Regions from separate parts of the Homo sapiens genome. Here region 2 is linked to region 1. The links come from fine-mapping of genetic effects on gene expression. A gene starts in region 1. The other region holds a variant in brackets. All regions are shown on one strand. Distances are between the middles of the regions.

Region 1 (5,363 bases):
TCATTGCTCCTCCTATTTCCTCAATCTCTTTCCACTTTACCACCTGATAAAATTTTACTTTATAAAGCATGAGAGCAAAGCTACCTCCTCCATAACACTTTCCTCTAGCTCTCTCAGCCCAAAGTGAATTTCCCAACCTCTTAACTCCAAAATGAAGTTGTTAATGCCTTGTGTAGAGCATACATTCCATCTCACATTATGGTTAGTTGCTGTACAAGATTAGACATTCCTTAAATAGAGAAACTATTTCTTATTCACTATAACCACAAAATGCTCTATCCTTGCCACTCATACTATAAACCCCTATGGTTCTAGGTCCTGCCCAAAACATAAATGGGTGGTATGGACGCCGTATCACCTTACTAAACTGTGACATTTTGGGGATTAGGAACTTTTGGCCAAGAGGGAGACTCACGCCTATAATTCCAACACTTTATTTATTTATTTATTTTTGAGATGGCGTTTCGCTCTTGTTGTCCAGGCTGGAGTGCAATGGCGCACTCTCAGCTCACCGCAACCTCCGCCTCCCAGGTTCAAGCGATTCTCCCGCCTCAGCCTTCCAAGTAGCTGGGATTACAGGCACGTGCCACCACGGCCCGGCTAATTTTGTATTTTTAGTAGAGATGGAGTTTCTCCATGTTGGTTGGGCTGGTCTCAAACTCCTGACCTCAGATGATTCGCCCGCCTTGGCCTCCCAAAGTGCTGGGATTGCAGGTGTGAGCCACTGCGCCAGGCCTCATTATTATTATTATTTTTTTTGAGACCAAGTCTTGCTCTGTTGCCCAGGCTGGAGTGCAGTGGCACTATCTTGGCTCACCGCAACCTCCGTCTCTTGGGTTCAAGCAGTTCTCCTGTCTCAGCCTCCAGAGTAGCTGGTATTACAGATGCGCACCACCACACCCATCTAATTTTTGTGTTTTTAGTAGAGACAGGGTTTCGCCATGTTTCCCAGGCTGGTCTCAAACTCCTGGGCTCAAGCGATCCACCCACCTCAGCCTCCCAAAGTGCTGGGATTATTGGCATGAGGCACAGAGCCCGGTCTGTAATCCCAACACTTTGGGAGGCCAAGGTAGGAGGATCACCTGAGTCCAGGAGTTCAAGACCGGCCTGGGCAAAATAGTGATACCCCATCTCTACAAGAAATAAAAAAATTAGCCAAGTATAGGGGCATGCACCTGTGTTCCTCGCTACTCGCGAGGCTGTGGTGGGAGGATCACTTCAGCCCAGGAGGTTGAGGCAGCAATGAGCACTGATGGTGCCACTGCACTCCAGCCTGGGTGACAGGGCAAGACCTCATCTCAAAAAAATAAATAAAAAGTGAGCTTGCTCACCTTTCCTATGTCTCTCAGCACCTTGCTTTTGAATTTTAGCTATTATTTTTACAGATCTTTTAACAAAAAGGCTGCTTTAATTAACGTTAACTAACATACATGGCATATAAGAAGATCCTTGTTCTCAAGGGCTTTACAAACCTCTAGAGTCAAATGTGCCTTATTATCAGTACAAAAATAAATGGTGTCAGCTGGGTGCAGTGACTCACACCTGTAATCCCAGCACTTTAAGAGGCTGAGGCAGGTGGATCACCTGAGGCCAGGAGTTTGAGACCAGCCTGGCCAACATGGTGAAACCACATTGTCAGGCCTCTGAGCCCAAGCCAAGCCATCGCATCCCCTGTGACTTGCACGTATACATCCAGATGGCCTGAAGTAACTGAAGATCCACAAAAGAAGTAAAAATAGCCTTAACTGATGACATTCCACCATTGTGATTTGTTTCTGCCCCACCCGAACTGATCAATGTACTTTGTAATCTCCCCCACCCTTAAGAAGGTTCTTTGTAATTCTCCCCACCCTTGAGAATGTACTTTGTGAGATCCACCCCTGCCCACAAAACATTGCTCTCAACTTCACCACCTATCCCAAAACCTGTAAGAACTAATGATAATCCATCACCCTTTGCTGACTCTCTTTTCGGACTCAGCCCGCCTGCACCCAGGTGAAATAAACAGCCATGTTGCTCACACAAAGCCTGTTTGGTGGTGTCTTCACACAGACGCGCATGAAACACATCTCTACTAAAAATACAATAATCAGCTGGGCGAGGTGGCTCACAGCTGTAATCTCAGCACTTTGGGAGGCCGAGACAGGCAGGTCACTTGAGGCCATGAGTTCGAGACCAGCCTGGCCAACATCGTGAAAACCCCATCTCTACCAAAAATACAAAAACTAGCCAGATGTGGTGGCGCACGCCTGTAATCCCAGCTACTCGGGAGGCTGAGGTACCGAATCGTCTGAACGTGGGAAGTGGAGCTTGTAGTGAGCCGAGATCGCCCCACTGCACTCCAGCCTGGGCAACAGAGCTAGACTGTCTCAAAACAAACAAAAAATGGTGTCAAGACTCTCAGACGAGATTCTAATGGATTAAGGCCTATATGTAAATAGCACCAAAGACTATGGAACAGAGATGGGAGAAGCAAGCAGGGAGGCAGGAATAGTTTAGCTGTGGCAGTTTTAGCTTAGTCCACTTACATAAATGGTTCTTTAGGGTAGCACGTGGAGCATCCTCATTTCCAAACATTGGACTGAGAGTAGAGAGCTGTGCAAAATAACCACAAGTCCCCAACTATGCCCTCTTAATTATCCCTATCATCTAAGACTGTTGTTCCCATCCATCACTGAACTTCCCCGTCCTCTTCCTTCAACCCCTGTGTTAGTCAATGGTTGAAATTTTGATTTGGTAAAAAACCTCTGGCGAAAACCAGCAAAAAGGGCTCACAAATCAGGTCTCAGGGAAGCACAGAGGTAGCCACGAGAAGGCCCGAGGTGCTCATGGAAAGAGCTCGAGCCCAGGAGCTCTGGGAGGACCCCAGGCGCTCGGAGCCGCCGTTACGTAACCGGCACTCAGAGCCTCCGAAGACCGGAAGGCCCCGCTCAGGCCCCGGCTCAGGCCCCGGCCCCGGCCCCGGCCCCGGCCCCGCCCCGGCCCGGCCGGGCAGCTGGTAGGTGCCGTGCGCAACCCTCCGGAAGCTGCCGCCCCTTTCCCCTTTTATGGGAATACTTTTTTTAAAAAAAAAGAGTTCGCTGGCGCCACCCCGTAGGACTGGCCGCCCTAAAACCGTGATAAAGGAGCTGCTCGCCACTTCTCACTTCCGCTTCCTTCCAGTAAGGAGTCGGGGTCTTCCCCAGTTTTCTCAGCCAGGCGGCGGCGGCGACTGGCAATGTTTGGCCTCAAAAGAAACGCGGTAATCGGACTCAACCTCTACTGTGGGGGGGCCGGCTTGGGGGCCGGCAGCGGCGGCGCCACCCGCCCGGGAGGGCGACTTTTGGCTACGGAGAAGGAGGCCTCGGCCCGGCGAGAGATAGGGGGAGGGGAGGCCGGCGCGGTGATTGGCGGAAGCGCCGGCGCAAGCCCCCCGTCCACCCTCACGCCAGACTCCCGGAGGGTCGCGCGGCCGCCGCCCATTGGCGCCGAGGTCCCCGACGTCACCGCGACCCCCGCGAGGCTGCTTTTCTTCGCGCCCACCCGCCGCGCGGCGCCGCTTGAGGAGATGGAAGCCCCGGCCGCTGACGCCATCATGTCGCCCGAAGAGGAGCTGGACGGGTACGAGCCGGAGCCTCTCGGGAAGCGGCCGGCTGTCCTGCCGCTGCTGGAGTTGGTCGGGGAATCTGGTAATAACACCAGTACGGACGGGTCACTACCCTCGACGCCGCCGCCAGCAGAGGAGGAGGAGGACGAGTTGTACCGGCAGTCGCTGGAGATTATCTCTCGGTACCTTCGGGAGCAGGCCACCGGCGCCAAGGACACAAAGCCAATGGGCAGGTCTGGGGCCACCAGCAGGAAGGCGCTGGAGACCTTACGACGGGTTGGGGATGGCGTGCAGCGCAACCACGAGACGGCCTTCCAAGGTAAGGGGGTTCATTAATCGCCAAGGCCTCACTCCCTTTTTTCCATCTCTCCCCGGACTCACCCGCCAAGGGTGGGTTGGAAACCGAAACGAGTCAGTGTTGAAACGTGTCTCATCCTATTCCTGAAGCCAGAATATTCTGGCCATGAGTCATTGTTTCCGCCCATCTTGATTCTTTTGGAAATGGCAGCTCTTGTTCAAAGACCGGAAAGGGTGGGATGTCAATTTCAAGTGGGGTCAACCTGAGTTCTGTAAATCCCAGTAGCGATTTTCCCGCCGCGGGTGGGCAGGCGAATCTTGCGCCGGTTTAGACAAAGGAGGCCGTGAGGACCTGCATGCTTTTCTTTCTCAGGCATGCTTCGGAAACTGGACATCAAAAACGAAGACGATGTGAAATCGTTGTCTCGAGTGATGATCCATGTTTTCAGCGACGGCGTAACAAACTGGGGCAGGATTGTGACTCTCATTTCTTTTGGTGCCTTTGTGGCTAAACACTTGAAGACCATAAACCAAGAAAGCTGCATCGAACCATTAGCAGAAAGTATCACAGACGTTCTCGTAAGGACAAAACGGGACTGGCTAGTTAAACAAAGAGGCTGGGTAAGTTTGCCTTAAGGATGAAAGGGGCCTTGGAGTGGAAGTAGAATGAAGGATTTTTTTTAGAGAGGTGGGGATATCTAAAGGTTTTTATGACGCACGGCTGTTTGCAGGCTCTAACTAAAGGACCATTGTTTATTTGATGTTGATTTAAGTAGTGGATCCTTAGAGATAGTGGTATGGCGGTCTTGAATTGTATCAAAAATCTTGGTTTTCTCTAGGCAATTTTTTGTTCCAATTCAGTTGAATACTCTTCAGTGGATTCAAACCATGAAAAAATAAGTCACCAGGGGAGGATAGCTGAAATAATTCCTAAGGCGGTGCCTGTTTTAATGGAGAAGATATGGGGTGGAGCCTGCGTTTTAAACAAACCCAGATCTGATGCAGGATGTACTTAACTACGTTGAGAAAAACTGATCTGCGCAATTGAGGCGTTACTGAAATATTAGGTGGTGGAGATTTGAGAATAAGGGTTTTCGTCTTTTACCTCATGGGAACTCTGGAAGTCCTTTTGTTAGGATAAATCCTAATAAGACCAAGATAGTACTGTAAAATGAAGTTTAATTATCATGGGTCCCCGCTTAAGAAACTGAAGAACTTATTTTCTTTTTTTGCCCCGGGGTGAATAATAATTGGTTTACTATTGCTTTAGGGGGAAACCTTAGATATTTTAATTTACCTTCTCTCTGGATAGTAGTGTTGTAAGAGAGCAGAAACCCATACTTGAAAATGTGCTTTTCTTTTTTGTTTTCTAGGATGGGTTTGTGGAGTTCTTCCATGTAGAGGACCTAGAAGGTGGCATCAGGAATGTGCTGCTGGCTTTTGCAGGTGTTGCTGGAGTAGGAGCTGGTTTGGCATATCT
Region 2 (5,336 bases), 63 kb before region 1:
AAACCCCATCTCTACTAAAAATACAAAATTAGCTGGCCATAGTGGCGCACTCCTGTAATCCCAGCTACTCAGGAGGCTGAGGCAGGAGAATTGCTTGAATCTGGGAGGCGGAGGTTGCAGTGAGCCAAGATTGCGCCTCTACACTCCAGCCTGGGCGATAGAGCGAGACTCCGTCTCAAAAAAAAAGAAACTCTAAAAGCTTGCATGTTAAAATTGGAGAACGCCACCCTATATCTTATTGTCTATAATTCATTCATCAAAAAAATATTGAGTACTTACAAATTGATGGGCACTTGCTAGGCACTGACAATAAAACATTGCATAGGGCACCATTCTAGCTCCCAAGAATGCACATTTATGTGGGCAAATAATATAATTTGTGACAAATGCTCAAATAGAAGTATAAACATAATATTTGGAAGCACAAATAAATAGTATTCTCCCTGGGAATGTTAGGGAAGACTTTGAGGTGTTGTATTTATTATGGTTATCATATATTGAGCACTTTTGTTGTGAGGTAGGTACTATGCTAACTGCTTTGTATCTTGTCTCATTTATTACAACACTAAAAAAAAAAAAAAACTCTACAGTGTTCTTTTAAAGAAAACTCCGGTGGCTGGGTGTGGTGGCTCATGCCTGTATTCCCAGCACTTTGGGAGGCCAAGGCGGCTGGATCACCTGAGGTCAAGAGTTCGAGACCAGCCTGGCCAACATGGTGAAATCCCATCTCTATTAAAAATACAAAAATTAGCCCGGCATGGTGGCACATGCCTGTAGTCCCAGCTACTCGGGAGGCTGAAGCAGGAGAATCGCTGGAACCCGGGAGGTGGAGGCTGTAGTGAGTCAAGATCGTGTCACTGTACTCCAGCCTGGGTGACAGAGCAAGACTGTGTCTCAAAAAAAAAAAAAAGAAAACTCAGGTAATGAGGCTTGCCTGAGGACCTAGTGCAGAGCTTCAGTTCAAACACCTACTTTTTAATCACTACCCTTTCTTGCCTTCATTTGAACTAAATCTCAAAGGATCGGCTGGGCCACGGTGGCTTATGCCTGTAGTCCCAGCACTTTAGGAGGCCAAGGTGGGAGGATCACTGGAGTCCAGGAATTCAAGACCAGCCTGGGCCATAGCAAGACCTTGTCTCTATTTTTAAAAAAATGTTTAAAAAGTCTCAAAGGATCTTTTCAGGCTAAGAGGGAAGAGCCAAGGCTACCCTATGCAGAGGAAATAATATGTACAAGATAATTGGTGATGTGCTAGAATTTCATGAATGCATGTCGTTTTCACATATTTCCAGAAAAAAAAAATTTTTTTTTTGAGATGGAGTTTCACTCTTGTTGCCCAGGCTGGATCTCAGCTCACTGCAACCTCCGCCTCCTAGGTTCAAGTGATTCTCCTGCCTCAGCCTCTTTAGTAGCTGGGATTACAGGCACCCACCACCACGCCTGGCTAATTTCTTATATTTTTAGTAGAGATGGGGTTTCACCATGTTGGCCAGACTAGTCTCAAACTCCTGACCTCAGGTGATCCACCCGCCTCAGCCTCCCAAAGTGCTGGGATTACAGGCATGAGCCACTGCGCTCAGCCCAGAAAATAAGAGAATATATTCAAGTTGTAAACTAAACAAAGGATTTTGAAACTGGCAGCTCTTTTTTTAGAGATGGGGTCTCACTTTGTTGCCAAGGCTGGAGTGCAGTGGCTATTCACAGGCGCTATCATAGCCCAATAATGCCTCAAACTCCTGGCCTCAAGGGATCCTCCCGCCTCAGCCTCTCCAGTAGTTGGGATTACAGGCACATGCACCAGGACAAGCTAAATTGTTTTTGTTGTTTGTTTACCTTTCCTTATTCCTTTCCCATTGCTTTTCTTTATATAGAACTGAGTTTCCAGCCAGGCACAGTGGCTCACACCTGTAATCCTAGCACTTTGGGAGCCCGAACAGGCAGATTGCCTAAGGTCAGGGGTTCGAGACCAGCCTGGCCAACCTGGCGAAACACCATCTCTACTAAAAATACAAAAATTAGATGGGTGTGGTGGCGGTCACCTATAATCCCAGCTACTGGGGAGGCTGAGGCAGGAAAATGGCTTGAACCTGGGGGGCAGAGGTTGCAGTGAGCCGAGATTGTGCCACTTAATTCCAGCCTGGGTGAAAGAACAAAACTAAAAAAAAAAAAAGAAGAACTGAGTTTCCTACTTATCATTTTCCCTCTCTCAATAACATTTCTTACAGAGCAAGTCAGCTGGATGTGAATTCCCTCAGTTTTTGTCTAAGAAAGTCTTTATTTATCCTTCATTTTGGAAGGATAATTTAACTGGAAATAGAATTCTATGTTGGGCTGGGTACAATAGCTCACCTGTAATCCCAGCACTTTGGGAGGCCGAGGCAGGAGGATCACTTGAGGCCAGGAGTTTATGACCAGCCTGGGCAACATAGCCAGAGCCCCAGTTCTACAACAACAACAACAGAAATAATTCTAGGTTGGTGGGTTGTTTTTGTCTTTCAACACTTTATATATTCCACTGTCTTACATGTATGCATGCATGCTTTCTGACATTAAATTACAACAAAACTGAAATTTAATTTAGATTCTAACAGATAAAATTTGTTCTTCCTTTTTGCCACACAGCTAAAATGCCCATAAGTGTATATTCATATGGTTTCTTAAAATGTGTTTTACTCTCCCTAAAGAATAAAAATAATCACTTTAATGCTGAAATGTTAGGTAACACTGCTTTTTTGATATTTTTCTATTATCTGTTACATGTGTGTATGTACTCTTTGTTTCTGTGTCTGCAATTATTCTCAAAGCCTTGGTCTGTCTTATTTTTCTGCTGAGTTCCAAGTTGTCTAGGTAATTTGGAAAGAGACAAACCAAACATGCTTTTTTTGTTGTTTTGTAGAGGCAGGGGGGTCTCCCTGTGTTGCCCAGCCTGGTCTCAAACTCCTGGG[C/T]TCAAGGGATCCTCCTGTCTCAGCCTCCCAAAGTGCTAGGATTATAGGCATGAGCCACCGTGCTCAGCTGAAAAGTGACTTTTTATTGATAATTGAGGGAGCCATCTCTCCCAGAAAGCAGTAAAATTTTATCGAATGCAAGTCAAAGCGAGAGTCACTTCCTGGCAGAAATCTCCGTTTTCTAGCAGCCCAGCTCACTTACCGTGTCAGTTTTCCTTTGCATTCCAAATTGTAAAAAAGTAAATTGAACCAGAGGGGAAAAACTAAATATTCTCTAAGAGCTCTTTTGTGTAGAATTTTTTCCCAGAATATAAATAATCTGGCTACCGCTTTGTTTTTCTTAATCTAATTCAACCTCCCAAAGTATGATAGTAGATTTAACTGAATTTCCTTCAGAAGCTTACCTGGGAATCTAGGGCCTTCTACTCCTTCAGAAGGGCTTCTTGACTGAATCCATGTTTCTGCCACAAGAAAAAAATCAGTCCAATAAATGTACATCATTTTCCTGATTTAATGAGAAAAATTTTAATCCTAAGTTTTTCTTGTATTTCAGAGATACTGAAATGTTTCCTCCTTATCTGAAAGTGAGACTTCTTCAAAGATTTATGGATATTTAAACCCATAAAATACCTCAAAATATTTGTAGGTTAGCCTTAATAATAATAATAATAATTCTTTTCCCCCTCGTTGTATCACCTCACTTTCATGCTCGTGCGTGTGAAGAGACCACCAAACAGGCTTTGTGTGAGCAACATGGCTGTTTATTTCACCTGGGTGCAGGCGGGCTGAGTCCAAAAAGAGAGTCAGCGAAGGAAGATAAGGGTGCGGCTGTTTTATAGGATTTGGGTAGATAAAGGAAAATTACAGTCAAAGGGGTGTTGTTCTCTGGCGGACAGAGTGGGGGTCACAGGGTGCTCAGTAGGGGAGCTTTTTGAGACAGGATGAGCCAGGAAAAGGAATTTCACAAGACAATGTCATCAGTTAAGGCAGGAACAGGCCATTTTCACTTCTTTTGTGGTGGAATGTCATCAGTTAAGGCAGGAACCGGCCATCTGGATGTGTATGTGCAGGTCACAGGGGATATGATGGCTTAGCTTGGGCTCAGAGGCCTGACACACCTTTTCTTGAACCTCCAAGTAGAGGCCAAAAAAGTCTTGAATAAGTTAGATTAAACTGATTTATATTAATCCAAAGTAGATATTTTTTCTTTTGGGAAGTAGGGAAGAAATGGGTCGAATTGAGGAGGGGAAGGCTGGAGAAGGGTGAAGAAAACAGAATAGCCAAATGGATTCTCAGGAACATTATGAATATTTAAAAGGGTGAACATTCAGTCTGAGAAAGCTGATTGAAGAAAATACTGAACAAATTTTCTTTTTGTCTTTGAGACAGAGTCTCTCTCTGTCACCCAGGCTGGAGTGCAGTGACACCATCTTGGCTCACTGCAACATCCACCTCCCGGGTTCCAGTCATTCTCCTGCCATGTTGGCCAGGCTGGAGGCTTCAAGTGATCCACCCGCCTGGGCCTCCCAAAATACTGGGATTACAGGCGTGAGCCACACCGTCTGGCCAAAAAATACTCTTTAAATGCTCAAAAAGTAATAAAAGACTTTTTTTTTTTTTTTTTTTAAGATGGAGTCTCACTCAGTCGCCCAGGCTGGAGGGCAATGGCATGATCTCGACTCTGCAACCTCCGCCTCCCAGGTTCAAGTGATTCTCCTGCCTCAGCCTCCTGAGTAGCTGGGATTACAGGCCTGCCCCACCACACCCAGCTAATTTTTTTTTTTTCCCTGAGACGGAATTTTGCTCTTGTTGCCCAGGCAGGAGTGCAATGGCGTGATCTCGGGTCACCGCAACCTCCGCCTCCCGGGTTCAAGCAATTCTCCTGCCTCAGCCTCCCAAGTAGCTGGTTTCATGTGCGTCCGTGTGAAGAGGCCACCAAACAGGCTTTGTGTGAGCAACATGGGTATTTATTTCACCTGGGTGCCGAAAAGAGAGTCAGCGAAGGGAGATGGATTATCATTAATTCTTATAGGTTTTGGGATAGGCGGTGAAGTTGAGAGCAATGTTTTGCGGGCAGGGGTGGATCTCACAAAGTACATTCTCAAGGGTGGGGAGAATTACAAAGAACTTTCTTAAGGGTGGGGGAGATTACAAAGTACATTGATCAGTTAGGGTGGGACAGGAACAAATCAATGGTGGAATGTCATCAGTTAAGGCTATTTTTACTTCTTTTGTGGATCTTCAGTTACTTCAGGCCATCTGGGTGTATACGTGCAAGTCACAGGGGATGCGATGGCTTGGTTTGGGCTCAGAGGCCTGACAGCTGGGATTACAGGCATATGCCACCATGCCTGGCTAATTTTTTTTGTATTTTTAGTAGAGACGGGGTTT

What was found. PIP is the estimated chance that this variant, and not a neighbour inherited with it, causes the effect.
Region 2: its variant is the best candidate, but not a certain one, in a credible set for the expression of MCL1 in whole blood (TOPMed, PIP 0.58).

What each region holds. Positions count from the first base shown.
Region 1 is chr1:150,577,385-150,582,747 of GRCh38, reverse strand. It overlaps MCL1 (MCL1 apoptosis regulator, BCL2 family member), which reads left to right and starts at 3,138. Exons shown (of 3, transcript NM_021960.5): 1 at 3,138-3,905; 2 at 4,257-4,504; 3 at 5,257-5,363. The coding sequence starts at 3,218. It overlaps LOC107985203 (a long non-coding RNA gene), which reads right to left and starts at 2,918. Exons shown (of 3, transcript NR_186818.1): 1 at 2,529-2,918. RefSeq lists silencers at 2,828-3,167, 3,238-3,367 and enhancers at 2,941-3,235, 3,284-4,001, 4,002-4,720, 3,681-4,880.
Region 2 is chr1:150,640,100-150,645,435 of GRCh38, reverse strand. No RefSeq gene overlaps it. Among named protein-coding and RNA genes, the nearest start is that of ENSA, 13 kb to the right of the region's middle. RefSeq lists an enhancer at 3,704-4,319. The variant C/T (reference allele first, on the strand shown) is at 2,946.